Linked DNA regions of Homo sapiens: region 2 is linked to region 1. The links come from fine-mapping of genetic effects on gene expression. Tissue or cell type: testis. Region 1 holds a variant in brackets; the other region holds the start of a gene. All regions are shown on one strand. Distances are between the middles of the regions. Region 1 holds the start of LINC02142 (long intergenic non-protein coding RNA 2142). Region 2 holds the start of LINC02123 (long intergenic non-protein coding RNA 2123).

Region 1 (5,166 bases):
TACATGAAGCATCTAGCAGTAGCTCATGACCTGACAAAAGTAGGTTTTGTTGATCTGACTTCCTCTTCTGCCCCATCCTTATCAGAGAAATATAGAGAATGAGCCAGGCAGGCTCATGCACTTGAAGCTATCTTTCTGATGTATCCAGCCACATCGTCTGCAGGGCAAGGAGGACACAGGCCAGTTCTTACTGGCCTTGCAGGGTCATTGCCCTGAATATTTCAAACGAACTCTATTATGGAACCCTGTCTTGAAAGTTGGTAGAACCTGCATCCCAAGACCAGCAAGATGGAAAGCTATTATCTCAGGATTGAAAAAAAAAAGAAAGAAAGAAAGGAAAGAAAGAAAAAAGAGTGCTTGTGATAAGAATCAGAGTCTTTTAGGCTGGGATCCAAAGACGGCTTTTGGAACATTGCATTTACAAAATACGTTTATTCCTTCTTAATTCTAAATTATCTCGACCCAAATCCTTTTAACACATAAAGTTATTTTAAAAGTACACTGTCATTTCCTGCTGAAGGCTAATGGAGAAATGCTACTATAATAAAACTAGAAATAAAAAATATCAAGCTACATCTATGAGACGAGGAATGTAGTATACATTTTGTAATATTTCCTGAAAGAGACTCAGAATTGGATGTGTGTGCCTGTTTACATCAGCCACATAAATCAATGTAGTCTCAGACACTAAAAGAATTCACTCTAGAACAAACAACAGAGGAAATGTGTTTAGAAAATCTCAGGCATCAGAGAAGTAAAATCTTTCATTAATCATCCTCCCATTTCACTGTCCATTTGGTGAGGTTTCCATAGGAATCGGTATTTCAGGACGTTAGATATTTAGTGGTGCTGCGGATGGGTGAGCTGGCTTGAGGCAGGTATCCTAGGAACTGTAGGAGGCCAGAGGACATCGTTTTCTGCTTGGTGAAGATATCACTGAATTTTATTCACATGATTCATATAATATATCTACTGAAATCAGCGCGATTGCTGAAATTTGTACAAGTGCGATCAAAGTACACACATTTAGGGGTTACTCAGTATCTAAAAGGACAGTATGAGATTGAGCACTTAAGCTAAGCTATCCTTAATGTTCATGTTTTCAAAAAAGTTGGGAAAATTATTCTATAGTATTAAATGAATAGTTAAAATATTGATCACTCATTATTTCAAATGTTTAAGGTAAGCACACAAGGAAACCTTATCAGTGATAAACTGTGGGCCGGGTGCGGTGGCTCACGCCTGTAATCCCAGCACTTTGGGAGGCCGAGGCGGGCGGATCACGAGGTCAGGAGATCGAGACCATCCTGGCTAACACGGTGAAACCCCACCTCTACTAAAAATACAAAAAAAATTAGCTGGGCGTGGTGGTGGGCACCTGTAGTCCCAGCTACTGGGGAGGCTGAGGCCGGAGAATGGTGTGAACCCGGGAGGCGGAGCTTGCAGTGAGTCCAGATTGCGCCACTGCACTCCAGCCTGGGTGACAGCGAGACTCCGTCTCAAAAAAAAAAAAAAAAAAAAAAGTGATAAACTGTGGATGGTGGAAGAATTGGTGACTTATGCATACAATTTTTTTTTTTTACTTTCCACATTTTCTGAAATGACTGTGTTCCATTTATAATATATTTTTAAAATCTTCAAAAAAAATAAAGAAAGCATTCTGATGTTAAGTCAAGGACTAGAAACAATAACAAGAATATATTCATTATTTATGCCAATATAAACACATCATTTAAACATATCAGGGCATTGCTTCAAGTGCTTATTTTGAATTAATGAGAAATAAGTCATTTTTGACATGGGTCACCTGGTAAAACACCTGGTAACAGCCTTCGGGAAACCAAGTTCCAGTTCAGTAAGTAACTAACGAAATATACATTGCCTTGTAAGCACATCTTTGAGATGCCATTGGGGAAATCTCTAGGTTTGAAAGATAAGGGATTACCTGCTTAACACGCTTAATCCATGCCCAGCTGTCAAGCAGAAATTAAATGTGTTAACTCTCTCAGTGAGGAAGTAATGAAAGAGTCAGGAATATCGCTCTTTTATTTCTCAAAAACCATTAAAAAAAAATCTAGAGAAGCCCTCTGTGTTCTGCAACATAACAAGATGATTCATTGGACATTCCCCTGTGGCCAACACCTCTGTATGGTATAGGGTAAAAAGAGCTAAAGAAAAATAAGATACAAATAACTTCTTCATTTTGAGTTCTGCTGGAAGCAGCAGCTGAACCTTTTCAGCTTTGTTAAGTGCCAGATGATGATCTTGCTGCCTTTACAGTGTTGTCTCTTTCTCTGTCGTCTTTAAGTATGAAGGAAGAAATATTTTACTCATGATCATCCCCAATTTCTCCCCAGCCAATTCAGCTTTGGCTGCAGTAAGAACATGTTTGCACTGTATCAGCATCCTGAATCATTATAAATACATCATTCATTTTAGAGTTAGATAACTAATGAAATTGCTTAATCTCTTTCATTCCTTGTTGACTTGAGAGTCAAATGTGTTCATCATGCAATATACTATAAATTAGTAAAGAGAGGGAATCATAGGATTATTCTTCCTTAATCCCTTACTTCGAAGATAATAGATGAAGATTTAAATTCTGTATTTTTGATTAAGTCAACTCTATGAATTTTCTGGTTTGGATATAGGAAGCAAGGGTGATGTCCATGTAAATATTGCTACATAAGCTTATATCTCAAATAAATTTAATATCTCTACATATTTTCATAATGTTTTAATAATATGCTATGATTATTTTGATTTGACATTGTTACTTATTTAAGAATTGGTTGCAAATAACAAAAACAGAAGATTCTCACCTCTCAGATGGCCAAAGCACAAGCAGATTTGATACAGCTGTATTTTTTAGATGGAGTCTCGCTCTGTCGCCCAAGCTGGAGTGCAGTGGCGCGATCTCAGCTCACTGCAACCTCCACCTCCTGGGTTCAAGCGATTCTCCTGCCTCAGCCCCCTGAGTAGCTGGGACTACAGGCGTACACCACCAAGTCTGGCTAATTTTTTGTATTTTTAG[A/T]AGAGATGGGGTTTCACCATGTTAGTCAGGATGGTCTCGATCGCCCTCCTCGGTCTCCCAAAGTGCTGGGATTACAGGCATGAGTCACCACGCCTGGCCTGATACAGCTGTATCTTTAAAGCTCCAACATGTGAGGAGGTTCAGCCTTGAGGGGCCTATCAGGAACCAAGAACCACAACATTCTTTTCCTTTCTGAGGTCGTAGCCGCTGTGAGTCTTAGCTTCTCTCTGCATCTGTGAGGTCATCTCCCTTTCTGTAGAGCATATGATCTTTACTGATGCACCTGCATCTGGCTCAGACTTAGTCACCCAGCCCTGAAATTATATCATATCACAGGTCATTCTCTGAGTCTCTTAATGTGAGGCCTTGAGAGAAAAATCAACATGCCTTCTGTTGGATGAAGACCAATCAGCAAGATGGTGGTGATTGTGGTACAGGTGGTGGTGGTGATGGTGGTGGTGGTGGTGGTAATGATGGTAGTGATAGTGGAGGTAGTGGTGATGGTGGTGGTGGTGGTGATGAAGTGGTGTTGGTGATGGTGGAGGTAGTGGTGGTGCTGATGGTGGTGGTGGTGATGGTGGAGGTGGTGGTGGTGGAGGTGGTGGTGGTGGTGGTGGAAGTAGTGGTGGTGATGGTGGAGGTGGTGGTGGTGGAAGTAGTGGTGGTGATGGTGGAGGTGGTAGGGGTGGTGGAGGTAGTGGTGGTGACGATGGAGGTCATGGTGGTGATGGTGGTGGTGGTGGTGGTGGTGGTGATGGTGGTGGTGGTGATGGTGGAGGTGGTGGTGGTGATGGTGGAGGTGGTGGTGGTGGTGGTGGTGGAGGTAGTGGTGGTGATGGTGGCAGTGGTGGTGATTGTGATGGTGGAGGTAGTGATGGTGATGGTGGAGGTGGTGGTGGTGATGAAGGTGGTGGTAGTGGTGGTGATGATGGTGGTGGTGATGAAGATCATGTTGGCAGTGTTGGTGGAGGTAGTGGTGATGGTGGAGGCAGTGGTGGTGATGGTAGAGGTAGTGTTGGTAATGAAGGTGGTGGTGGTGGTGATGGTGGTAGTGGTGGTGGTGATGATGGAGGTGGTGGTGGTGACAGTGGTGGTGGTGTTGGTTATGGTGGAGGTGGTAGTGGTGATGATGGAGGTAGTGGTGGTGATGGTGGTGCTGATGGTGATGGTGGAGGTGGTGGTGATGAAGGTGGTGGTAGGGTGGTGATGATGGTGGTGGTGGTGATGAAGATGGTGTTGGTGGAGGTAGTGGTGATGGTGGAGGTAGTGGTGGTAATTAAGGTGGTGGAGGTAGTGGTGACGGTGGAGGTAGTGGTGGTAATCAAGGTGGTGGTGGTGGTGGTGGTGGAGGTGGTGGTGGTAATGAAGTTGGTGCTTGTGGTGGTGGTATTGGTGATGGTGGTGGTGACGGTGGAGGTTGTGGTGGTGATGATGCTGGTGGTGGTGTTGGTGGAGGTAGTGGTGACGGTGGAGGTAGTGGTGGTAATGAAGGTGGTGGTGGTGGTGGTGGTGGAGGTGGTGGTGGTAATGAAGTTGGTGCTTGTGGTGGTGGTATTGGTGATGGTGGTGGTGACGGTGGAGGTTGTGGTGGTGATGGTGGTGGTAGTGGTGGTAATGAAGGTGCTGGTGGTGATGATGGAGGTGGTGGTGATAATGGTGATGGTGGTAGTGATGGTGGTGATGGTGGAGGTCGTTGGTTGTGGTATTGGTGGAGGTAGTGGTGGTAACAAAGGTGGTGGTGGTGGTGACGGTGGAGGTGGTGGTGGTGATGATGCTGGTGGTGGTGTTGGTGGAGGTAGTGGTGACGGTGGAGGTAGTGGTGGTAGTGAAGGTGGTGGTGGTGACGGTGGAGGTGATGGTGGTGATGATGGTGGTGGTGTTGGTGGAGGTAGTGGTGATGGTGGAGGCAGTGGTGGTAATGAAGGTGATGGTGGAGGTGGTGGTGATAATGATGGTGGTGATAGCGGTAGTGATGAAGTTGGTGATGGTGGTGATGATGGAGACAGTGGTGGTGGAAGTAGCGAAGGGCCCTATGGTAGAGAGAATTTTGGATTCAGGGTGGTGATGGGAGGGTTTATTAAGAAAACATCAGGAAACAGAGAGGGTATTTCTGGTATCTCTGAAATAGTAAT
Region 2 (5,166 bases), 26 kb after region 1:
TGGCACCCATAGGCATTTGTCCCAGAGAAATGAAGACTTATGTTCACACCAAAAACTATACACAAATGTTCATCACAGCTTTATTTATAATAGCCCCAAACTGGAAGCAGCACAGATGTTCTTCAAAGGTAAATGTTAAACAAACCATGATATATCCAGATCACAGACCATGAAGCAGTAAAAGGAACAAACTATTGATACACCTGACAACTTGAATGAATCTCTAAGGAAACACATTGAGTGAAAAAAGCGAATCCCCAAAAGTTTACATACTGTATGATTCCACTTGCATAATGTTTTTGAAATAACAAAATGTTAGAAACGCAGAGGAATAGATTAGTAGTTGCCAGGACTTAGGCCCTGGGAGGTGAGGAGTGGGGCCAACGGAAGGTGGGTGTGGTTTTAAAAGAAGGAAAAGCCATACAGAATTGTTCTGTATGTAGATATCTAGATTGTAGCGGTGCATGCAGGAAGCAGGACCTACATGCATAATAAAATTATGCAGAACGAAACACACACACACACGCCATACAAATGAATACAAGCAAACCAGGAAATCGGGGTCAGGTTGGAGGATTGTATTAATGTCTATACCCTGGTTGTGATAATTGCACTATAATTTTCCAAGGTGTTACCATTGAGGGAAAATGAGTAAAGGGTAGAGAGGATCTCTGTATATTATTACTTACAAATGCATGTGAATGTTCAATTATCTCAATAAATAGTTCAACTAAAAAAACACCATTCTTTCATTGATTTCTTCACTAGATGCCATTTTGGGGCTGCCTTTCAATGGAATAGAAACGGAATGGTTGCCGTTTGTCAAGGCAGAGCTCTGATCATTTTCATCAGGGTGTGGAGCACACATGGACGGTAGCCTGCCTGTTTAGCAAAGCACAGCCTTGACAGCGTTATTTTCTCACAGCCAACCGTCCATGAAGAATTCCCAAATGGTTCTACCATTTTCTTTTGCTGCTAGATTCTTAAAATAGATACCAGGAAGAACCTACTCTGCTGTCTTGCCCGAAGACTGGCCTAAATCTCTGAATATTTTACCACACCCATACTTTTGCTTGTATTATCTGGTGAAGCAGTCTCATTATCAATACTGAGTTTGTTTTAAAAGTTATATGGAAGTTTGTGTGTATTTTGTGTATTTTCCAGAGCCCCCAGTGAGTGCCTGAGCCCATTAATTTCAGTCAGAATCAGAATGCAATTTTACACTTTTAAAACTATAACAAGTTCAAGGGCATTCCCAATACTTTTGTGATAATAATAATTTTAAAAATTATTGACTTTGATCCTATAAATATAGGCTCTGAATCTTATAGAAAAAAAATTTCATGCAGCAATAAATACAACTGCAGCATAAGCCTGCTGTGAATAATGCAATTACTATATTTAGTTACACACATTTCTTCCAGTCCAGAACTCCCAACACTCCCTTCTTCTCTCCTGTCTCATGAAGAACAATACAAAATTATATTCCCCTGAGTGATTTCTCTTTCTTCCCATTTTGAGGCAGCAACATGGCTGCCCACAGAGGTTCCCCCAGGGCTTAAGGACATCAATTAATTCAGTAGCTAGGTAGAGAGTTTCCTTTTAGAGGGACTGTTACATAACGTTGAATGAAAGGAGAATGAAAGGAGATGCAGACAGCTCCTGACTGCTGCTCTCAAGCTCAAGTGGGAGAATTAAGACAGCCTCATTCACTGCTCAGCACTTCCTTTGCTCTGATGATCATCAGAAATCATCTCAGTCTTCCTTGCGCTGCTCCTTCTTTTCCTGAAGTTCCGATGCTCCAGCTTCAATCCTCAAACTTGGAAAAAAAAAAAAAAAAGGAAATATCTGTAGTCCTTGCAACTGCTTTTTGAAGTTGTGCTCGGGCCCCTGTTGTTTCTCTACTGAAGCTTGCAGTGTGCTTTCATCGGAGCTGGCCCCTGCCCCAGCCAGCACCAGCCCTCAAAGACTTTTTTATTCTAACATAGCCCGAGTATGTTAGGAAACTAGAGCTGCATAACCACTGCCTCTTAACTCTGCTAGCCCTGGCATCTTATCTGTATGATTTCTGCAGTGATGGGAGGGAAGCTAGTAGCTCTCTAGTTCATTAAACGGAACGTCTGTCTAGGAAGATACCAGGAAGATATTTTATAAATGAATGTCGATATTTTTCCTTCCAATGTAATTAGATATTCTGTTTCAATCTAAGGCTCTTCTTACAGGCAAAAGGAATAATGAAGCTTTCAACCATGATACAACTGAGAAGATTTCAGCATCCACATAGAAAGAAAAGCAGGGCAATGCACCCTCCAAGCTTAGGAAGGAGGCAGCCAGAGAACTCCTGGCTCCTTTGTGGGGTGAGAGAGCTGCCCTAAGGAACTCCAGGCCCAAAAGAGAGAGCAAGTGGGATTAGCTGCTTATTGTGTAAACTTAGAAAGGGAAAACAGAATTAAAGTAGGGGTAAACGGGAAAAATAGATGAGTAAATTTTCCTATTGCTTTAGAAAAAAAAAATCTAAATTCATATGTAATTTTGTATCTACTTGTTTCCCATCTCTACAGGCTTCACTGAGAAGATGAACCTGCCGATGAGGTGTGCAGAGAACTTTGGCTGCACAAGTTAAGAGGAAGAGGCTGAGTCTCAGCTCAGAGAGTGCTGGTAATGCCAAGCACAGCAGAGCTGCCAGAGGGATCTACTTGGAATCTGGGGAGGCCCTGGGGAGACTAACTGGTACAATTTAAAGAGATGCAAAGCAAATGATATGCGGGGCAATCATGTGAAAAGCCTGCTGCCTTACAGGATGGACTCCAGCTGCTCAGTGGGACGGGCTGTTGGGGGCTGGGTTTTGGTAGGGCAAGAGGGCCCCGGATGGAGTGATGGACACTCTAACTCACTACTCCGCCGTCCAATACAGTCCAGATTGTTCAACAACTCTGAGAATAAATGGTCTTTTTTAAAAAATTGGTGTCAAACCTACTGTACTGGGTTGATGTGAAATTGAAATTGAAATAAGTTGTATATAAAATGTCTGGCACATAGTAGTGATCAATAAATATTAATCCCTTCCCCAGACCAATGCTGTATTTCCATTTCTGGGGCACATGCCACATTGTCTAAATCAATGTTTTATTCACTCATACATCAAAGATAATGGAAACACTTATATTTTAGAAAGAACTTACTGTACATTTTATATTCTTTTTGGTAAATTGAATAAACACTCTTCAGAGATATATAAACCTAGATTTCCTGATAGACTTTGCATTAGAACATTGGTGGAAGAGAATGCACCAGAAAATCTCCTCTTTAGGTGCCCACTTCTGAGCTTTAGTCCTCCAACCCCAGAGGCCTAGTTACTCAGCCCAGAGTTCAGTGGGGCCGTGGGAGAAGTGGATGAGCTAGTTCCCTAAAGCACAGGCATGGGGGAGGCATGTCTCTGTCATACTCAATCATCCTAGCACGGGTGTGAGGGACATGTGAAAACGGGAATATAGATGACGCGAAGGTGCAACTGGGCTCCGTTTGGAGTCTTACCCAGTTCATAACTCAATTATCTCTAAGGAATATGCAGAAAAATGTGTTTATTTATTTATTTTATTTTTATTTATTTATTTTTTGAGACAGAGTCTTGCTCTGTCACCCAGGCTGAAGAGCAGTGGCACGACATCAGCTCACTGCAACCTCCACCTCTTGGGTTCAAGCAATTCTCCTGCCTCAGCCTCCAGAGTAGCTAGGATTACAGGCGCCCGCAACAACACCTGGCTAATTTTTTTGTATTTTTAGTAGAGACGGGGTTTCATTATGTTGGCCAGGCTGGTCTTAAACTCCTGACCTCAAGTGATCTGCCTGCCTTGGCCTCCCAAAGTACTGGGATTACAGGCGTGAGCCACTGTGCCTGACCAGAAAAAAAAAAAAGTGTTTAGAAGAATAGATATTTGAAAAAACAAAACTAGTAATTTGCGAAACATCTAAATAATAATAATAATGTCAACCCTGTTTTGACTGCTCGTTACATGCCAGACACTGTTCTAAGCATTTTATATGTATTCACTCACACAATCAGCCCAACAATCCAATGAAACAGGTACTATCATCATCCCCATTATAGGGATTAGCAAAGTAAGGCACATGGGACATTCAGTGAATTGTTCAAGATCTGAAGCCAAGTGGCACAGCAAGTATTTGAATCCATGGTACACCAGGTTCTGAGCCTGGGCTCCTGACTGTTAATTTGTTTCATTGATTAACATCCTAGGGATTGTTTGTACAATTTTTTGCCCGAAGAAAAGCCCTTCACTAATTCCCAAGTTTAAGTTCATAGATTTGTTTAATCATTACTGGTGCAGGGTATTGGGTAACTGGAGTAGTTTCAGCAAAAAGCAATTATGACTTCATTTGAAATCCAAGTAGATTAGGCATGGTTGATTTTATTTTCAATGGAAAAACCTTTCAGTTGGGTTTATTGGTCATTGTTTTTCAGTGATTTGTTTGCCATTGACATTAGTCGTGTTGTGTAACAAAGAAGTGTCCATTAACTTTGATTAATTGTCTCTTACGCCGAAAGTCCTAACCACGCAGTGCTCCACTGATACCACTTGAAGGGCAGAAGCGGAGGGGTGGGCTTTGGGATTGAGAAGAGCCTTTGGATGCTCACTTAACTGTAATTTCAGAAGCACAGACAAGCAACAAGATGACAACTATAATAAAAACAAAATAATACAAATAATATCAGTGGCAGCCTTTACCCAGCAGTGGCTGTGCCCAGCCTGTTGCGTGTCCTGAGATGTGGGAACTCATCTAAGCCTCACCCTAGGAGGAAGGTCCAATTCATCCTCCCATCTTACAGAACTCTAAAAGTTATCCCAACTTTACTCAAAGCAAAATCCTCATGGCCATATGGCTTTGATACAGTCCTGGACACCACCATTTCTGGTGGCAAATTCACAGCAAAGTAATGTCCCTGAACTTCAGCTTCCCATACCCTCCTCAATTCTGCAAATGGCAATACCCAGAGCTGCTGATGTGTTTCATGAAAGAACTCTAGGGAAGTAGGGAAGTGCTCAAAGGATTTCTGCCACAAGATGGTCAATAAATGGAAGGCATTATTATTGCTATCTGGAATACCCTAAAAAATGATCAAGCTGAGTCCGGGCGCGGTGGCTCATG

The links. PIP is the estimated chance that this variant, and not a neighbour inherited with it, causes the effect.
Region 2: it holds the start of LINC02123, and the variant in region 1 is the best candidate, but not a certain one, in a credible set for the expression of LINC02123 in testis (GTEx, PIP 0.59).

Annotation. Positions count from the first base shown.
Region 1 is chr5:7,371,172-7,376,337 of GRCh38, reverse strand. LINC02142 (long intergenic non-protein coding RNA 2142) reads right to left here and starts at 3,172. Exons shown (of 4, transcript NR_183263.1): 1 at 2,823-3,172. It overlaps LOC105374645 (a long non-coding RNA gene), which reads left to right and starts at 3,244. Exons shown (of 7, transcript NR_188260.1): 1 at 3,244-3,465. The variant A/T (reference allele first, on the strand shown) is at 3,035.
Region 2 is chr5:7,345,164-7,350,329 of GRCh38, reverse strand. LINC02123 (long intergenic non-protein coding RNA 2123) reads left to right here and starts at 2,353. Exons shown (of 2, transcript NR_134277.1): 1 at 2,353-2,454; 2 at 2,562-3,344.